4 separate regions of the Homo sapiens genome follow, and regions 1, 3 and 4 are each linked to region 2. Evidence: fine-mapped expression QTL. A gene starts in region 2. Each other region holds a variant in brackets. All regions are shown on one strand. Distances are between the middles of the regions. Region 1 has its middle 110 kb from the start of ELAC2. Region 2 holds the start of ELAC2 (elaC ribonuclease Z 2). Region 3 overlaps ARHGAP44 (Rho GTPase activating protein 44). Region 4 overlaps MYOCD (myocardin).

The links. PIP is the estimated chance that this variant, and not a neighbour inherited with it, causes the effect.
Region 1: its variant is fine-mapped to the expression of ELAC2 in skeletal muscle (FUSION, PIP 0.95). The same link has a PIP of 0.9 or more in subcutaneous fat.
Region 3: its variant is fine-mapped to the expression of ELAC2 in whole blood (TOPMed, PIP above 0.99). The same link has a PIP of 0.9 or more in blood mononuclear cells, cerebellum, esophagus mucosa, gastroesophageal junction, left ventricle and neural progenitor cells.
Region 4: its variant is fine-mapped to the expression of ELAC2 in CD4 T cells (Kasela 2017, PIP 0.95).

The regions. Positions count from the first base shown.
Region 1 is chr17:13,124,702-13,129,851 of GRCh38, reverse strand. No RefSeq gene overlaps it. Among named protein-coding and RNA genes, the nearest start is that of ELAC2, 110 kb to the right of the region's middle. The variant T/A (reference allele first, on the strand shown) is at 3,090.
Region 2 is chr17:13,016,109-13,021,247 of GRCh38, reverse strand. ELAC2 (elaC ribonuclease Z 2) reads left to right here and starts at 3,221. Exons shown (of 24, transcript NM_018127.7): 1 at 3,221-3,545; 2 at 4,127-4,177; 3 at 4,316-4,386. The coding sequence starts at 3,301. RefSeq lists a silencer at 3,104-3,183 and enhancers at 3,704-3,763, 3,784-3,893, 3,405-3,905.
Region 3 is chr17:12,990,202-12,995,351 of GRCh38, reverse strand. ARHGAP44 (Rho GTPase activating protein 44) reads right to left here. Exons shown (of 21, transcript NM_014859.6): 21 at 3,709-5,150. ELAC2 (elaC ribonuclease Z 2) reads left to right here. Exons shown (of 24, transcript NM_018127.7): 20 at 290-389; 21 at 468-588; 22 at 849-927; 23 at 1,521-1,665; 24 at 2,307-3,740. The coding sequence ends at 2,534. Among named protein-coding and RNA genes, the nearest start is that of ELAC2, 25 kb to the left of the region's middle. The variant C/G (reference allele first, on the strand shown) is at 2,685.
Region 4 is chr17:12,738,285-12,743,434 of GRCh38, reverse strand. MYOCD (myocardin) reads right to left here. Exons shown (of 14, transcript NM_001146312.3): 7 at 4,107-4,232. Among named protein-coding and RNA genes, the nearest start is that of MYOCD-AS1, 35 kb to the right of the region's middle. The variant T/C (reference allele first, on the strand shown) is at 2,322.

The sequences.
Region 1 (5,150 bases), 110 kb before region 2:
GTCAATTTTTGCCTTTGTTGTGATTGCTTTTGGTCTCTTTGTCATGAAATCTTTGCCCGTCCTTATGAATGACTAGAAAGTTATTAGTGACATTTTGCCACAGCCAAAAAGAAAGAGGTATCTAACAATAAAAATCAGCCTACAATTAGATGGTCTGTCTTAGGAAGCACTGAGACCTCAACCCAGGAAAGAATTTAGAGCCATTTGTAATGTTTCTAAGGAAATTCCTGCACTGAGGAAAGATGAGACTGGATGATTCATAAGGTTCTGTCCAGCTCTAAGATCCTACAATTCCAGTTTTCCAGATTGCTTTAGTCCTGCCAAGCGGAAGAAAATGTGGTATGTTTGATTAAAGAAAAGATAGAATTTTTCAGAAAATGACCAAACCCTTCCAATACAGATGTTTTTGACTTCCTGTGCAAATGGTTTGCAGTGAAACTTGAAAGCAGGGACTTGCAGAAATCAACCTTTCCTTTCGCATTTCATGGAATTATTGGTTCTGAAAGACAAAGCCTGAAGACACTTGTGTTGGCCCTCTTATACCAGACACCAGGTGATTGGACAATATTATGAAACACTCCCTTGGAAGTGGCAGCTAGGATATCTCACCAAGTCATGGTTTTAGGAAACTTTCCCCTTTAGGTGTCAGCCAAAGTGCAGAAAGTGGAAACAGACTGTGTGGCCCACCCCGAGACCAGGCTTTTACTGGTGGTAAATGAAGAGGCGCGGCTGCAGACCGGATGGAGCTCTAAGGAGCAAGGCACGAGAGCCTGTAAAATTTTGCTTTGAAAAAAAAAAATCCCCTTGGTTCCAAAATTTTATCAAAGTGAGAATTTAAACAAAATGTCTTCTTCAGTTATTAAGCCAACACTAATACCAAAGCTAGGCCCAAGACAAGATCATGAACACATGACTTAGGTTATTTAGGCTGAAGTGCAATAAACTTGTTTATCTGGTTCCCAGAGCAGACAACAATGTCAAGCAGCATTGTGAAAACTCTTGGTAGATATTCACGATGGTGAGAGAATTTTGGCTCCTTCATTACCTACAAAGGTGAAGGAAAGAATGAAGGATTTCCTACCTGCACAATTTTGGAGAACATAATATTGCATGTAGCAGAGCTGAAAAAGTAAGACTACAGTAAGTCAGAATGTGCCTAAGGGATGGGTCTCCCCAAAAGGAGCTCCAAGATACGCAGCAAGTCTCTGGACAAAAGAACCAAGATATCACGTCCTCCCCAATGTAGCGAGGACTGTCAGGCAATACAAAATGAAAACAATAGAACATGCTAAAATGAAGGCAAAGAGATTAAGGCAGTTGAGGGAGGGAACTTGTTATAACAATTGCTGCGATGAATAGTGCCCTCACTATGCACCAGGCAGACACTCCACCCTACATGCATTATCTCCTTTAACTCACACAACAAAGCGGTAAGTGATCTGTTCGTGTTCAACAGAGCTAGCGGGAGGCAGAGCCAGGATGTAGCCCATGGCAAGCTGATTATGTAGCCCCTGCTCTTAAGCATGACGTCACTCTAAAAGAGGTAAGAGGTGGCCTGTGGCTCAGAAGACTGAACTCCCAATAATGTTTTTCACTTTGTAACAATTTATGTAGGACTATATATAAGACTATGAGAATCTTTGTGTCCAACAGGATCACAGAGATCACTCTCACTCCCAGTTTCCTGCCCCATATAGGTTACTTTCTATGTCACCATTGGCAAGTGACTCTCTTTATCTACCTACATCTAACACTGAACCCATTTCCTCACTGAAAGCTCATTCCACCGCTGGCCACTTACACTTGTTAGAAATTCTTCCACATATTAAGCTGTTATCAACCTGCCTTTTTTTTTTTTTTTTTTTTTTTGAGACTGCCTCTCGCCCTGTAGCCCAGGCTGGAGTGCAGTGGCGAGATCTCAGCTCACTGTAATCTCCGTCTCCCAGGTTCAAGTGATTCTCCTGCTTCAGCCTCCTCGGTAGCTGGGATCACAGGCACCCAACACCACGCCTGGCTAATTACTTGTAATTTTAGTAGAGACGGGGTTTGACCATATTGGCCAGGCTGGTCTCGAACTCCTGACCTTGTGATCCGCCCGCCTCAGCCTCCCAAAGTGCTGGGATTATAGGTGTGAACCACCACACCCTACATCAACCTGCCTTTCAATGCCCACTGCCTATTATTCAAAAGTTTAGAGCAAAACAGAAAAGTCCAGCAGTTTCTCTACATATAAAGCACATCATAGAGTCGAAGGCAACTGTCACTACCCCAAGTTCTCACCCCTTCAGGAACAATATTGTAAGTTCCTTCAATCATTTCATAAACAAAAAAAAACAAACAAACAATGACTGCCTGCACTACCATTGCTATAGCCGTCAAACCCACAGCTGCAGTTGTCACCATCACTAACTCTTCAGGGGTGAAGAAAAAAGAAATATATGAGAATAATTAGGCACAATCTCAGTTCACTGTAACCTCTGCCTCCCAGGTTCAAACAATTCTCCTGCCTCAGGCTCCTGAGTAGCTGGGACTACAGGCACACTCCACCACGCCTGGCTAATTTTTGTGTTTTTTTTTTTGTAGAGACAGGGCTTCACCATGTTGGCCAGGCTGGTCTTGAACTACTGACCTGAGGTGATCTGCCCACCTTGGCCTCCCAAAGGGATTACAGGGGTGAGCCACTGTGCCCAGTCCTGTGGTGTGGCATTTGAATTAAAGGTATCAAAATGAACTCATAGGGTGTTTTTTAATAGCTATGTAAGTAGATTGATAGGTACAGGTTTCTGTGTCTACATGGGTTAATACATATTCATGTAGTATTCTCAAGCTCTTTCCATGGAGCGAGCCTAGAAGCAATGAAATCTCAGTAACAATGAGCACATCCTGTGCCTAGACCTTAGTTTCTAAATACCATTCTTTAATAAAAGGTGACAGGGCTTCTTGGAGAAGTAGCTAATTCCTGGGTTGAGACAAGAAAAATACATGATGAACCTGTGACATCTTGTGAGGCTAGAAAGTAAGAAAGTGCTGAAGCAAGGATGGGGGCTTGTCAAAAGGACATAGGAGCCAATCTGAGAAAGCACCTAGTA[T/A]CCCAAACTGGAACCAATTGAACAACAAAGAAAACAACAATAGTATTAGATTGTAATCAATCTATTAAAATCAATATCCATGAGACCATACAGGTATAAGTAAATAATTGAATAAATAAGTCAATGGCAGAGAAGGGACGGCTATTCTTTTACAGGAGAATTCCAATTAATAAATGCAAAAGAAACGAGGAAGATGGAAAATAACCAACAGTAATAATTAGAGATGAAATCCACTAATGCATCATAAAATTAATTGGCAAAAGTTTGGGGGGAGATAGGATGTTTGAAGATGGAAAGTAACCAATAGTAATTATAGACAAAATCCATTAATGCATAATAAAATGAATTGGTAAAAGTTTGAGGGGAAATAGGATATTTGAATACTCTACAGTTATATCCCATGATATATATGACAAAAGGGAAGATGGTAAGTTTATTTTGAAGAAACTCAAGTAGACCTCAACCAAGTGGTGAAAATAAACATCACCAGTAATAAGACACATTAATATCATGTGCCTTCTGATGTAATGTACTCTGAAAATGCGCATCACCTCTGCAGCATTCCTGCCAAAAATTCATTACCTCAATCTAATCATGAGAAAACATCAGACAAATCCAAATGGAACAACACTTTACAAACTAACTGATGGGTAGTTTTCAAACGCATCAAAGTCTCAAAATTAAAAAAAAAAAAGAATGAGGAACAATATAGTTTGGTCAAGGAGTCTTGACACCTAAATGCAATATGGTGCCCTGGATTGGAAAACATGACTGAAAAAAATTGATTAAAGTTTGTAGTTTACTTAGTGTTAGTGTACCAATGTTAATTTCCTAGCTTTAATAACTGTATCATGATTATAGAAATTTTTCTGAAAAGATTCACGTTTCATATTTTCAATGTATAAATCAGGCCTGTTTCACATATCTCCAACACATCTCAAACTATTACATTTAAAAAGTTGGGGTACTGGCCAGTCGTGGTGGCTCACACCTGTAATCCCAGCATTTTTGGAAGCTGAGGTGGGTGGATCACTTGAGGTCAGGAGTTGCAGACCAACCTGGCCAAAATGGTGAAACCCTGTCTCTATTAAAAATACAAAAATTAGCCGGTGGTGGCAGGTGCCTGTAACCCCAGCTACTCGGGAGGCTGAGGCAGAAGAATCGCTTGAACCCACAAGTCAGAGGTTGCAGTGAGCAGAGATCACACCACTGCACTCCAGCTTGGGCAACACTGCAAGACTCTGCCTAAAAAAAAAAAAAGTTGGGGGATTCTCTATTTTTGCAATTTTCTTTCTTTCTTTTTTTTTTTTTTTTTAAACATCTACTTTGTGTATTTTTTTTTTTTTTTTTTGAGACACAATTTCGCTCTTGTTGCCCAGGCTGGAGTGCAATGGCACAATCTTGGCTCACCGCAACCTCCGTCTCCCGGGTTCAAGCAATTCTCCTACCTCAGCCTCCCGAGTAGCTGGAATTACAGGCATGCACCACCATGCCTGGCTAATTTTGTATTTTTAGTAGAGACGGGGTTTCTCCATGTTGGTCAGGCTGGTCTCGAACTCCCAACCACAGGTGAGCCGCCAGACTCGGCCTCCCAAAGTGCTGGGATTACAGGCGTGAGCCACTATGCCCGGCCTGCAATTTTCTATAAATTCAAAAATATTTTGAAATTAAAAAATTTTAAACGTATAATTACATACTCTTTAGGAAATAACAATAGCGTTTAAGGTTAGAGAAATTATTCTTAAATGCCTTTCATTATCAAAAGGAAAAATGGAAATACAAGTACTAAAATCTTTTCATGTGAGAGGCCTAAAAATATACACATGTATACATATATCCAGTAAAAAGAGAAATGAATAAGGATAAAGGCAAGTGTCAATAAACTGAAGAAAAACAGAAGTAATGTTGAATGAATCAAAAAGAGAAAAACAGAAGTACACAAGTCAGAGTCTGAAAACAGGAATATTATAGCCATTTATAACCATGGATAGAGACAATTTTTAAAACCCTAAACAAATGCTACATATTTTATTTTAATAAAGAAAAATGCTTTTTTATTTT
Region 2 (5,139 bases):
AATGTGGACAGTCTACATGGATGGAGAGGCAATGGGAAATGAACCAAAGCACCCCCAGCAGGGCCAGTACCCAGGACCCACACCTGTGAGTGTGAGGTTCCACTCCCATTGAGCCACCCAGCAGCCACTGCAAGGAGCAGAGACAGGCTATTCTTACTAAACACAACCGTGACCAACAAAAGGACTGAAAGTGATTTCAAGCCACAAGCTGCCCATATACAAAATGGATAACAAAAAGAGACTCAAAGCAAGAGGAAGTGGCTGTATTATATTAATTGTTAATATCACTGACTTCTGAAAGTCTGTCGCCTCGATTTCCACTTTCTCTGCTGTCCCGATGGTCAGGCTGCCTCTACTCCAGCAAGTCCAGAGACACTTTTCTGTTTCAGACTCTCTGAACTATCCTTTTGGAGGTACCAGTCACACCAATCCCCTTCAGAAAACACATACATTGTTGTCTTGATTCAATTTTAGGCCCTGCTTAGTTGTAAACTGAAAACCTCATTTAAGCTACTGGCTTGCTTCTAATTTCCTAGTATTTATTGTCTGCCACAAGCCAGACTCTGTCCTAGGAGCTAATGATACAGCAGAGGACCAGATAGACAAATCCCAGGCTCATGAAATTTACATTCCAGTATAACCTCAGATTGAAGAAGTACTAGCTATTGTCTTCATATACCAGGAATAAAAATATGACCCAAAGCATAAGTGCAGAAAGTACACTGGGCCCTAGAAACAACCTAAATAGCATCCAGCCCTCAGAATTTTATATAAGTCGATGACCAAAAGTGATTCCTCCTATAATTTTGAGATAAGTAGTTTGAGATTACCCAACAGATAGATATGCACATAGGGCACCAATAAAATAGAGGAACCAATGTATTTTTGTTTGTGAAATTTGATATATTTTTTAAAAGGATCAAAGCAGTCATCACAGGAAAAAAATCAGTATTTTATTTATTGCACTACACTTTTTAAAAGTAGTTTTAATGAATTAATTTTCTTTTTCTTTTTTTTTTTTTTTTTTTTTTGTAGAGAGTGTCTCACTCTGTCAGCCAGGCTGGAGTAAAGTGGTATGATCATAGCTCACTGCAGCCTCAAACCCCTGGGTTCATGTGATCCTCCTGTCTCAGCCTTCAGAGTAGCTGGGACAACAGGTGTGTGCCACCATGTCCAGCTAATTTTTACTTATTTTTAAATTTTTTAGTATTTTTTGGTAGAGATGAGGTCTCGCTTTGTTGCCAGAGCTGGTTTGTTTGTTTGTTTTTGAGATGGAATCTCCCTCTGTCACCCAGGCTGGAGTGCAATGGTGTGATCTTGGCTCACTGCAACCTCTGTCTCTGGGGTTCAAGTGATTCTCCTGCCTCAACCTCCCCAGTAGCTGGGATTACAGGCCCATGCAACCACTCCCGGCTAATTTTTGTGTTTTTAGTAGAGACGGGGTTTCATCATGTTGGCCAGGCTGGTCTCGAACTCCTGACCTCAGGTGATCCACCTGCCTCGGCCTCCCAAAGTGCTGGGATTACAGGCATAAGCCACCATGCCTGGCCACAGAGCAGGTTTTGAACTACTAGCCTGAAGCTATTCTCCCGCCTTGGCCTCCCAAAGTGCTGGGATTACAGATATGTGCCACGGTGCCCAGGCTTTAAGCAACTTTTAAAAACTATCATTTTTATTTCAAATACTTATGGAGATGGTGGTATGATAATCTTTTCAGTTTGTAACGCCCTCTAACTGTGTAAAGTAGATCTGAAGTGTTTTCCTGACCCTCACTGGGATGGTTATTTCAAGTACAAAACGTTTTCACACCGTGGGTGATAATCTTCCATAAAAAATTTCATATTTGAATGAAAACAGCTCAAGAAATACACTAATGAGCAAAAATATATGGGGAAAGAGGAACGTGTAGTTTTGACTTAACTGAAGAAACCAAGAGGAAACTGGTCTCCATATGAAAATGTGATCCTGGAAAGTCAGGTGTCAAGATTTTCGAGTAGGAATCTACATGACTTGAATCTCCCTTACTTCCTGAATAAAAGTGACATCTTTCAGTATTTATTTAAAAAAATCATATGTCAGTGGAGCTTCCAGGTAAATTATCTTTAAAAAATCATATTTGAGTGGAGCTTCCAGGTAAATTATCTTCCTCTTTTAAGGGAGCTCCCTGTATTTCTAGCGGCTTTAACTGATATCCCTTTCAGTGAGAAATCCTCATTAGCTACATAAGAGGGGACTGGGTGTTTTTTTCAAAAAGCTGGTATTGGGACATCTACCTCTGTGATGTCCCTGGTCAGCTATATTGTCTAGGAGTTGAAACATTTTGTATTAATTTTCTATCATTTACTGGGTGCCTCTTCTGTGACAGTGCCACTCAAAGGTCTATTGATATATTATCAGGTGACTGAATTCTATATTCTGAAGTAGGAGATACTGTTATTGCTGTTATTACATTTTACACATAAGAAAGCTGAGGCTCTGAGAGGTCAAGATCACGCAGCTAACAAATGAGCCAAGACTCTTGCTTTAGAGCTTGTCCTCTATTCTTGCTTTTCTTTCCAAAAAACACTACAATTTTTGTTTTGTTTTGTTTTGTTTTGAGACAGGGTCTCGAGGTGTCACCCAGGCTGGAGTGCAGTGGCGCGATTTCGACTCACCGCAACCTCCGCCTCCGCGCTTAAGCGATTCTCCTGCCTCAGCCTCCCAAGTAGCTGGGACTACAAGCTCGGGACACCACGTAAAAATGATCAAGTTCTAACATGTATGCATACGAATTACAATGGAAATAAAATTAGCAAAGCGCTTATGCTAATGCTCAATACAATTGATTTCCTCACATTTAATCCTCACAACCACTACAACCACCTCTAACTCAAGCTCTGAGGGACTGACGTGCCCGGAGGACACAGCTCTTATCTGGTGAGAACAGGAGCGTTTTAGCGAAACTCCAAACTCCTAGGTCCCGCCTTCCCCAGGAAGGCTTTTCCTGGCACTGTGCTTCCGGAAGTCCCGCCCCAGGAGAAAAACAGCTTCCGGAAAAAATTGCGGCCGGCAAACCGGAACAGAACTAGGGGCGGGGCCGCTTGAGACGCTCTAGTATTCCTCTACTCTATGGCCACTGTCAATTGACAAGTCCCGAGCGGTAAAGCTCCTTTCTATTGGATGAGCAGCCTCGCGTAGGCGGGAAGCTCGGTGCACGGCGCGCTGATTGGCTGGATCCGCCATGCGGAGCGGCTAGGTGGTGCACGGGAAACGCGGGCGTAGGTGACCGGCGGCTTTCTCAGTTTTGGTGGAGACGGGCGCATGTGGGCGCTTTGCTCGCTGCTGCGGTCCGCGGCCGGACGCACCATGTCGCAGGGACGCACCATATCGCAGGCACCCGCCCGCCGCGAGCGGCCGCGCAAGGACCCGCTGCGGCACCTGCGCACGCGAGAGAAGCGCGGACCGTCGGGGTGCTCCGGCGGCCCAAACACCGTGTACCTGCAGGTGGTGGCAGCGGGTAGCCGGGACTCGGGCGCCGCGCTCTACGTCTTCTCCGAGTTCAACCGGTCAGTCAACGAGCCACGCCCCGTCCCGCTGGGCCCTCAGTGCGGCGCAGCCTCTGAGCATCGGGGCACCTCCCAGGGCTTCGGCTTCCCTGCTTCACACATGTGGTTCACTGTTGCGGGGGTTCGTGGAGTTATGGTGGGTGGGAAATCCGAGATTCTTTGCATCCATGTGATTTCTGCGGATCTGTGAAGAACTTCAGGCCTGGGTCTGAGCGTCCTTTTCCCAACCCTTGGGCCCCGGCCTGGCTGTCAGCACTTTCGGAGCTCCACCCTCTTCCGTGCACCCCAAGGCCAGTGTGTCGTTGTTAGCGTGTGGGGTGGACAGATCTGGTGTGTAGCCGGTGGTGGAGAAAGGACTCATTTTGTCCTAGCACCCACACACACAGGCCCCCACTCCTCTCCACCTCTGCTAAGGAGGGCTCAAAACCCACCAGCATAAATGTGGCTCGGTAGTCCAACGTGGACTTTTAATTTTTTTTTCTTTTTTTTTTTTCCAGAGTCTACAATAAAACATCTAATTGGTGTCAGAGAGTTTACAGAATAAAACCTTCTGAATGTCTTGTGTAATGTTTGTCTTGTAGGTATCTCTTCAACTGTGGAGAAGGCGTTCAGAGACTCATGCAGGAGCACAAGTGAGTCAGTCTCTTGCTTTCGGAGGGGGAGTTGATTACGGGGCTTGAAAGCCGAAATGAGAGGCCAGTTGTTTTTTATAGCAAAAGTGGTCCTTGTTCTGTTCATGTTATCCTGTTTAAATGTTTTTTCATTCTTAGGTTAAAGGTTGCTCGCCTGGACAACATATTCCTGACACGAATGCACTGGTCTAATGTTGGGGGCTTAAGTGGTGAGTATATTCTTTGCAGTGTCAGAGGCTGGTGGGAAGTCTCTGGGATTTTAACCGGCTTTACCATTTTTCCAAGTCTGGGGTGGGCAGCTACTTTTTTTTTTTTTTTTTTTTTTGTCAGTGGCGTGATCTTGGCTCACTGCAACCTTTGCCTTCTGGGCTCAGGTGATCCCCTCACCTCAGCCTCCCAAATAGCTGGGACCACACGTGTGCCCCATCACACCTGGCTAATTTTTTTTGTATGTTTTGTAGCGACGGGGTTTTGCTATGTTGCCCAGGCTGGTCTCAAACTTCTGCGATCCTCCTGTCTCGGCCTCCCAGAGTGCTGGGATTACAGGCATGAGCCACCGCACCTGGCCTGGAATTCTTTTTATACCAGCCCAGTCAGCAGCAGCACAGAGCATTAAAAGCTGTGACTCAGGAGAACAGATTTTAATATGGATACCACCTCTTAAGTGTTACCATCCACTTAGTTTCTTGCGTTGCGGGGACAGAGATTTGTGGCAGTAAACTGGAGAGTCTAGCAGTGGTGATTACAGTTAATATGTTTACCGCAGACGCCATTGGCACATTGGCAGCCACACACATACCCACTGTCCAGATTACCCTGTCATTTATGTCTATCAACCGGAAGGTCAGGATTGTGTTGCAGCCAAATTGTGTGGGCTTGGTGGCATGGACCGGAAGGAGTGAAGTGTTAGACCAGTCTCCCTTCTCAGGGCTGAGACTAGGGTGAGGCACTTAGGGTGCCAG
Region 3 (5,150 bases), 26 kb after region 2:
GTGGCACCATCCTCACCCCAAGGGGAAGGAGTCCCCTCTGCTGGAGCCATCCGTGGCCCGTGCTGCCTGAGCCGGAGGCAGCATTCACCTGCTGGGTTTCTCCCAGTGGCCTAGAGGCTTTGGTTTGGCTCTTTATATTTGACTGCTGTTTCCTCATCATAGTGACTATGATTTAACTCATGTTTTCTCCTAAGAATGATTTTGGGGTTCTCCAGCCAAAGACTTAAACTTTGGTTCCAGATGTCCAAGAAACGTTTATTATCATTTTAAATGTTTTGTCTTTTTACAGTATGATTCCTGCCAAATGCCTTCAGGAAGGGGCTGAGATCTCCAGTCCTGCAGTGGAAAGATTGATCAGTTCGCTGTTGCGAACATGTGATTTGGAAGAGGTAAGGGGCACAGCCGCAGGCATCATGGGGGCGAGGTGGGGAGCAGAGCTGCAGAGCCCTCCAGCCCCACCCTTTCAGTTTCAGACCTGTCTGGTGCGGCACTGCAAGCATGCGTTTGGCTGTGCGCTGGTGCACACCTCTGGCTGGAAAGTGGTCTATTCCGGGGACACCATGCCCTGCGAGGCTCTGGTCCGGATGGGTGAGTAGAGGAAGAAGCAAGCCACCCTGAGGTTGCTCTGGGGTTTGTGTAGCTGGAGGTGAATGCAGGTGGGCTTGCAGGGAAACGTCAGCAGAGGCAGGAGACTCAGGTCCCCACCCTCAGAGTCTCTGGTTGTCATCCTAGTAGGCAGACCCAGGGCCAGGGGAGCTGAGTGTTGAGACCAGGAAACAGCACGTGACTGAGGCCTGTGTGCCGCTCTCGCAGAGAACTCTGCCCTGATCCTTGTGCTGCTTCTCCAGGGAAAGATGCCACCCTCCTGATACATGAAGCCACCCTGGAAGATGGTTTGGAAGAGGAAGCAGTGGAAAAGACACACAGGTAGCAAAGGCCGGTCAGTCCTTGTCGCCCACATCCTCTCCCTCCCCCACTACGTGACACTGAGCAGCCGTCGTTTGTCTCCACTGATGTGGGGCTGCCCTGCTTCCTATCAAGGGCTATGGGGGCTTCCTTGACCTGTGGCAGTGCTCACAGGCTCTTGGCCTTTATTTTTGCAGAATTTTCTAAGCAAGATTCTAGAGTGAGGCACAGTTTTTTGAAAGCATCTAGAAATCGGCTGAATAAACTATAAGCCATGTCAGGGAATTGCCAGGGGAAGGCGGGGGCTGGGGGACTGAATTTTTGGCTGCTAATTTCAACGAAAGAGTGCATTACCCCAGGTGGGCCCTGTGGTTTCTCTTGGGTGCCCTCATGGACAGATTTGGCAGCCAGCACAGAGGGTGGGCTTCATCCAGGGGTGTGTGCGAAGGCTCTGGCCCTCAGGGGAGATTGTGCTGGCTACGGAGGTGCCCGTTAAGAAAACCCACCAGCTTCCCCGGGTGCCCTGGCAGTTGATGGCCAGGGTCTGTGCCACTGTCTGCTTTGCAGTCTTGCAGTTGAGTTCAGCTTCAGTCTGCTCTGTCCTTCACCTGCAGCACAACGTCCCAAGCCATCAGCGTGGGGATGCGGATGAACGCGGAGTTCATTATGCTGAACCACTTCAGCCAGCGCTATGCCAAGGTCCCCCTCTTCAGCCCCAACTTCAGCGAGAAAGTGGGAGTTGCCTTTGACCACATGAAGGTCTGTATGTCACACGGACAGCACAGGGCGGGGACGGGGCAGGGAGACAGGACTCTACACACTGAGTAGGACGGTCAGCTGGAGTTTGCTTTCTTATTTGGGGCCACCGTGGGAAAAGGTTATCTACCCATCACTAACCAGGTCGAACCACCCTGGGTTTGCTGGTGAGACCCACCTCCTGCAGGGGCCAACTAGTCTTCAGTCTCAGTTCACTGGAAATTTCTGAGAATCCTTTTAGGCCTGGACTGCTCACACAGTCATGGCATTTGAGCCTCAGCACAGACCTGTGAGACAGGTGGTTGCCTCTTGTGAGTGGGAAAGCCAGGCCTGACCCTTGGCCTTCCGGAATGAAGGGGCAGAGCCGGAGCCAGGCCTCGTTTTTCAGGAGCTTGATTTTGAGAGCATCTGGACTGCTCTCCCTTCCCTCTCCGGAGGCCCTTAGCCAGGCCTGGGGAGCCTCTGCCCCTTTAGAGGGTTCCCTCCATGCCATTCTTTTTTCCATTTCAGCTGTGGCCTGTTGGCTTGTGCCAAGGAAGGGGCGTTGGCGCTGCTGTGTGAGCACATGACTGCATCCCTTCCAGCTCCTGTCCCCCACCCCTGCCCCTCTGAGACATGTCCTTGTCTTCTATTGTGTCTTCTAGGTCTGCTTTGGAGACTTTCCAACAATGCCCAAGCTGATTCCCCCACTGAAAGCCCTGTTTGCTGGCGACATCGAGGAGATGGAGGAGCGCAGGGAGAAGCGGGAGCTGCGGCAGGTGCGGGCGGCCCTCCTGTCCAGGGAGCTGGCAGGCGGCCTGGAGGATGGGGAGCCTCAGCAGAAGCGGGCCCACACAGAGGAGCCACAGGCCAAGAAGGTCAGAGCCCAGTGAAGATCTGGGAGACCCTGAACTCAGAAGGCTGTGTGTCTTCTGCCCCACGCACGCACCCGTATCTGCCCTCCTTGCTGGTAGAAGCTGAAGAGCACGGTCCCCCAGGAGGCAGCTCAGGATAGGTGGTATGGAGCTGTGCCGAGGCTTGGG[C/G]TCCCACATAAGCACTAGTCTATAGATGCCTCTTAGGACTGGTGCCTGGCACAGCCGCGGGCCAGGAGGCTGCCACACGGAAGCAAGCAGATGAACTAATTTCATTTCAAGGCAGTTTTTAAAGAAGTCTTGGAAACAGACGGCGGCACCTTTCCTCTAATCCAGCAAAGTGATTCCCTGCACACCAGAGACAAGCAGAGTAACAGGATCAGTGGGTCTAAGTGTCCGAGACTTAACGAAAATAGTATTTCAGCTGCAATAAAGATTGAGTTTGCAATTGTGAGTTCTTTTGCTTCCTCCTGCTGCTGCTACAGAGCAGGGTCTGCTGTGCACCACCTTGGAGAAGGCTCTCTGTGCTGTAGTGTGGCAGCTGCCTGGTACCCGGGTGGCTTGGAAGAAGTCAGCTCCCGTCGTAGTGAGCACCTCTGGAACCTGTCCTCAGAGAGCCACCCTTATTCGCCAAGTCTTTTTGACAACTCGAGCTGTGCCAGCTCACAGCAGGGCGTGCTTTCTCTATCAATCAATCAATCAATCAATCAAATCAATCAGTGAGAGCCTGGCTGGGCTGGTGTCATTGGTCAGGGAAATGCAAGTCTTCTGGTGGTTCTGGGTAAAAGTGGAGACAATAGATTTGCTGTGTTGTTGCTTCCATACTGAGAGGAGTGAGGATCACTTTGCCCTCGAAGGTTTTGAGAAATGGCACACGGGGCTGGTTTCCATTGTCCTCCTTGCGGGATTTACAGACGTGGATTAGTGCTCGACAAATGGAGAGCATTTTCCAAGGAAGTAAGTAAGTAAAGTAAGTAAGTAAGTAAGTAAGTTGAATCTAGTATTTATTGTGTATATTCCCTACCCAGGAGAATGTAAAAAGAAGAGCTTTAAAAACTCAAAAGACAAGCAAGCGAGAGATCAGCCAGGGACCTGGCTTTACACAGGTGGTGACCTTCAGGCTCCATCCCGGTGTGCATTTGAGATTGACGGCCATGTCCCCGCAGGTTTATTAAAGCAAGAACAGATGCCAAGCTCAGGGATAATAAATCTATTTTAATAACGTTACTTTTGACAACGATTTGTACATGTATTTAAAGATAACAACTTTCAACCCCCACCCTTACCCCAGACTCCCATTACAAATTGAGGCATGACCTGCCCTTGCCAGGAAGTGAGCAAAGCTGCAACATCAAAACTCTGCACATCCCACTCTCAGAGGAGGGTGACTTTACACTGTGTTGGGAAAAATAACTAAGCATTTAAATTTTTCATTGTACACCTGTACATTGGTTTAGATTGAATGGCTCAAATTAAACAAATATAGAGAGATTTCATATATACAAATATTATATCATGTATAGGTATATTATATCATCTATTTGAAAAGGATAAAATTTTAAACTTTGACTTTGCATGCATGGCCCAAATCTTTTCTCACTCCCCTAATCCCCAAGTGTGAAAAGGCTACCCGGTGCCCTCCCGGCCCTCGTCCCCATGACCAGATGGGACTTCATGAGAAGGAAATGAGCGGCTGACGCTGGTGAGCAAAGCAGGCCACACCGCAGGCCGAGCCCGTGGGCCAGCGTCTCCGTGGCTGGTTTCACTTTTCCTCCACATGCTTTGGGTAACGTAATTATTGCTATTCAGTTTGAACCTCCAGAAAGAAGAGACAGGCTCCAGGACCCCACAGACTAGTGAACTGGGTGCCTTTAGGTACGTAGAGGGGTAAAATTACTCTCATATAGCCAATATATTTGGGGACAGGGAGGCCACCTTTGGCTCCTCCAGACACTGTCAGGCTTGTTTGTTTTGTTTTATAGATTCAGAAATATAAAATGATATAGGAGCTTTCAGTCACACAGTGGAAAAAGGAAAACTGTTAGGAAGTGAAACATTTTTGTTTTCAGCCATTTACTTTGGAGCCCACTGATGGGGGCGGCCTGAAAGGTTTTCCAGTGGCAAGCCCTCCCCCAGGTAGCTGGCAAAGGTCAGTGCCCCAGGACTGCTAGAATCCTGGACCTGGTCCAGTTGTGGGTGAGAGGGGCCCTGCTGTCCTGCTTCCTTTCTGTGGCCATTAAACTGATCCTGCAAGACCTGACATGAGCCGTCCAAGGAAAAGGTAGCAGCCCTTGGGTCTAACCAGGCAAAGTGAGCCTCTCCCGCACCACCCCGACCCTGCAAAGGACGTTCCTGACCAGCCTTGGATGGAGAGGTGGGTGTTTTCTGGCATGGAGGCTGAAAGTGGATCAAAAGAGGCACAAAGTCAAAAGGCAAAGGTCAAACAAAAGGCCGAAGTCACCACCCGAAAGGAACAAACAAAACCTGCACCACCAGCATCACCACACGGACTGGAGATCACAATTTTCTGCCAAATTCCAACCTCGTGTTGGCAGTGGCAGGAAAGAGCCAGCAGAGAACACTTGGCAAGCTCATGGACGCTGCTCCTGGCGGCGTTCCTAGGGCCCGTGATGTATG
Region 4 (5,150 bases), 280 kb after region 2:
GACTTATTAATGACATAAACTAAGATAAAACTAAGATTTTCTTTGAAAATCTAGAATGTGGTTATTTGTTGCTTTGAGCTGAAAGTAAGATAAACCTTGCCTATCTGCCTGCTGAACACCCTCTCGCCTGCCTGCCAAATACCGATGAAAGATCAGGAAGTAACACCTTTTGAAATAAGGACACTTTACTTATTATGGGAAGGGTTATCCACCTAACTGGAACACTTCCCAGAGTTGGAACCCAAAGCATGTATTGCATGATTTGGACACACTGAATCAGGAAGTTAAGGGTATAGTCTTGGAAGATAAGACAAATTTTTGAAAGTGGTACAATTACTTAACTTTAATACATCTCAGTTTCCTCACCTGCAAGTTGGAGAAAATATTCTTTACTTTTTCTCTCACTAATCAATATAAAGACTATAAAAGATAATATTGAAATAATAACAGGTAGTCAATGAACAGGTAATTATGTCTATAACCTGCTCCTGAAATAAAAGACCTTTGTATATTAGGAAGGAATGGGTCCATCCTGTTATCAGGTTAAAAAAAAGTAATTTTCAGGCCGGGCGCGGTGGCTCATGCCTGTAATCCCAGCACTTTGGGAGGCGGAGGTGGGCGCATCACTTGAGGTCAGGAGTTCGAGACCAGCCTGGCCAACATGGTGAAACCCTGTCTCTGGTAAAAATACAAAAAATTAGCTGGGCTTGGTGGTAGATGCCTGTAGTCTCAGCTTCTCGGGAGGGTGAGGCAGTAGAATAGCTTGAACCCAGGAGGTGGAGGTTGCAGTAAGCCGAGATTGCGCCACTACACTCCAGCCTGGGTGATAGAGCGAGACTCCGCCTCAAAAAAAAAAAATAATTTTCAAACCCTGACTTTATTACAGAAGGTTGAAATGAAGAACACGGATGTCATGACCACGAGTGAGCTAGGATTTGGGGGAACATTGGAAGGAAAGTGTGTTTCCACCGGTGTCCAGAAGAGGGGGCTCCTGAACAGCTGGCAAGCATATTCTGACTTGGCAGGTTCCCCACTTCAACCACAAACTACACATCTGAATGTGACCTTATCCAAAGGAGCTTACAACTCACTTGGACTCAGCGCAATGCACCCCCAAAGGCTCTTTTGTTTTCCAAAGAGACTTCTTCCTGGCGACTAATGAATAATGAACACAAGTAGTTGGGTGTGTTTGGTGGCTCCGTTTCTCTCTGCTTACTAATCGATTAGCATTCTAGTTAGTTAATCAGTCTTCTGTCCTTGGAGAGTTTCTGCAGGGCTCCCGAAACCAGCTCTGCCCTGGCCTGCTCCAGACCAGCTGCTGTTGTCGCCTCATTCTGAGGCTTGCCTTGTCTGGGGAGGATGGGAGCTGCAGCCCTGGCAGGGTCCCGCAGCTAAGTCGGAGGTCCAGGAGCTTTTTTTCTCTATGTTGCCTTAGCACATTCCAGAAGATACTGAAATCGGACCATTTACTCTGGATAGTCTGGGGTAAAGGCTACTATTACTATTCTCTTTTTGAGCCCAGGGGACACTAAGGTTTTTGTGTTTGTTGACCAAGCAGAAGAAATGATGGCTCTTCTACAAACAACCAGCCTGCCGGGACCAGCTGGGTGTCTGTAAGAATCGCCTTTTTCACAGAAAGCGATCTGTTCATCTCCTGGGCTTCTATCATACTTTCTACTACAGTGAGGTTGAAGGCTTTGCTAATTTTTTTTTTTTTTATATATATATACAGAGTCTCGCTCTGTCGACCAGGCTAGAGTGCAGTGACTGCGATCTCGGCTCACTGCCACCACCCCCTCCTGGGTTCAAGCGATTATCCTGCCTCAGCCTCCTGAGTAGCTGGGATTACAGGCACACGCCACCACGTCCGGCTAATTTTTGTATTTTTTGGTAGAGACGGGGTTTCACCATATTGGCCAGGCTGGTCTCGAACTCCTGACCTCAGGTGATCTGCCCGCCTCGGCCTCCCAAAGTGCTGGGATTACAGGCGTGAGCCACCATGCTCCACTGCTAACTTAAATTATGCAAAATTTAAATACTGTGATAGAAATATGAATAACATTTCTTTTTATACTCAGCTTTAGAAATAACGGGACTCATCTCCTCCTCCTTCCCCTGCAATGAACAAAATGCATTGATAGTCACATAATTTCCGACCTGTTGAGCTGAGTGAATTGTCAGCTGGGTTTAAGCTCTTGTGGTTTGGTGGGGGAGCCTTATTGGCAAACTGAAGTGTCTATCATCCATTAGACCATAAAACTGTTACTATATCATTGATTTTTACTTCAATTTACAATCTTTTTTAAGTCCCGTAAGAGTCA[T/C]TTTAACATTCATTAAGTGGTGGCACTCGAGCTGAGAAAACGTGTTCCCAAATCAGTTGGAAGTTATTTGGGTATAGGCCAGGCACGGTGGCTTACGCCTGTAATCCCAGCACTCTGGGAGGCTGAGGCAGGTGGATTACCTGAGGTCAGGAGTTCAAGATCAGCCTGACCAACATGGAGAAACCCCGTCTTTACTAAAAATACAAAATTTGCCAGGCATGGTGGTGTGCACCTATACTCCCAGCTACTGGGGAGGCTGAGGCAGGAGAATCACTTGAACCTGGGAGGCGGAGGTTGCGACGAGCTGAGATCACGCCACTGCACTCCAGCCTGGGCAACAAGAGTGAAACTCCATCTCAAAAGAAAAAAAAAAGGAACACAAAGGGAAGTTATTTGGGATAAAACATTATAAAGAAGGCCACATGATTACCAGGCAATTAACTGAAGAGAGAGCAGCCTGTGTACTGTGAGATGCGATGCTGGTGTTTATAGAAGCACGAGTCGCAAGTGCAAAGATATGGACCCAACCGAAGTGCCCATCAACCAACAAGTGGATAAAGAAAATGTGGTACATATACAACATGGAATGCTACTCAGCCATAAAAAGGAATGAAATAATGTCTTTTGCAGCCACTTGGATGGAGCTGCAGGCCATTATTCTAAGTGAAGTAACTCAGGAATGGAAAACCAAGTATCATGTGTTCTCACTTATAAGTGGGAACTAAGCTATGAGGATGCAGAGGCGTAAGAATTATGTAATGGAATTTGGGGATTGGGGGAAGATTGGGAGTGGGGTGAGGGATAAAAGATTCCGTATTGTGTACAGTGTACACTGCTCAGGTGACGGGTGCACTACAATCTCCGAAATCGCCACTAAAGGGCCGGGCGCAGTGGCTCACGCCTGTAATCCCAGCACTTTGGAAGGCCAAGGCAGGTGGATCATGAGGTCAGGAGATGAAGACCATCCTGGCTAACACAGTGAAACCCCATCTCTATGAAAAACACAAAAAATTAGCCGGGCATGGTGGCGGGAGCCTGTAGTCCCAGATACTCGGGAGGCTGAGGCAGGAGAATCACTTGAACCTGGGAGGCGGAGGTTGCAGTGAGCTGAGATCGCGCCACTGTATTCCAACCTGGGCAACAGAGAGAGACTCTGTCTCAAAAAAGAAAAAAGAAAAAGAAAAAAAATCACCACTAAAGAACTTCTCTGTGTAACCAAAAACCACCTGCACCCCCAAAACTATTGAAATAAAAATAAAAATTAACAAAAAGATATAATGCTGAGAAAACTAAACATTTGCTATAATGATTCTAGCTACCTGCCTACTATGAATGAAACCCCGTGGTTATTTCCATAGGAAGACTGGCTTGAATGATGTAAGTTTTACGTTATGCAAGCTTTTCAGGGCTACTTCCCTTGCATAAAATCCAACTGCTGCATACCTATTTTATGAAACTTGCAAATCCTGCCTTACAATCAGCTGTGTCTACCTCAAAGGTGAGCTTATGAAATCTTTTAAGTGGGGAACGTGCTGGCTGGACTGTGATTCCAAAGAAATGCAAACCCACAGCCTTCTCCGTGGCAGAGGTGACTTCTGCTGTGCTGCAAGGATGGTGACCCATTTCTCATCTCCTGTTTTGTGACCCTCCTAGTGAGCTGAACCTCTGCCTGGGTCCTCCGTGTAACTCTCCTCGTGTTGTCAGACCTAACTCAGAAAGTTCTGCTCCAAGTCGGCTCTGTGAGCCGAGCGCTCAGGCAGGGCTTGGAGGCTGATGTGTCCGTACCTTTACAGCAGCATGCACGGCTATGGGGGTGCTGGGGGGGCCAAGCCCCTGCTTCCCCGCATCTGACTGGTGGCTGGGCTGTGAGGCTGAGTCATTTCTGTCATTTTCTGAGCCAGAAGCAAGATCCTGAAATCCAAATGTTACCGATATTAGGAAGATACAGGAATAAGTTGTGTGACACAGAAATGTTAGAGTCCGTATATATACCTCTGCTGCTTTCATCCTAGCTTCTCACCCAAGTAAATATCAGCCTACTCCCTCAGTGGGAGGAGTCACATACGTATATGTGTGTATATATGTGTGTGTGTATATATATGTACATGTGTATACACATATAAATATGTTTATGTGTATATACATATATACATATATATATATAAACTTATCATCCAGCTGAGAACACTTTTGAGAGAGAAAGGGAATCATTCTAAGTAATGATTCCAAAAGACAGGTATAAAACTGGTCTGTTCTAGGCAAACTGGGACATCTGGTCTCGGTGTGTGGGCGTTCCACCTGTGTGTGACAAGGTCCACCTGTCTTGATAATGCAATTGAAAAAGAGCAGCAGGGAAGAGTGAGTGTAGGAATTTGGGGGGAAAGTAGGACAATGAACAAGGTAGATAAAAAGGATGTTAGCAGAAAAAGGGAAAGTGTGTGTTTGGAAGTGTGTGTGTGTATCTCCAAGTGTGTGTCTGAGTGTTTATATGTGCATGTATGTGTGTACGTGCATGCGTGCTTATGAGCATGTGTGTATATATGTGTGTGTGCATGTTAGGTGTATACGTGTGTGTGTGTGCACATGTGTGCACACAGGCATGTATATGTATATGTGGTTTTGTGTGTATACATATGTGAGTCTGTGTGTGTGTTTGTGTGTGCGTGCGCATGCATGTGTATAAAGTCATAAGAAACCTTTACCAGAGGTAGAGTCTGTAAAGGGAAAAATTATTTTCTCTTTCTCTCCTATATTCCTCTGTTTCAACTCTGACAAAAAGGAGCCAGGGCTGCCCATGATCTCTCCATGGGGGGTGAGGAATGAGCTTTG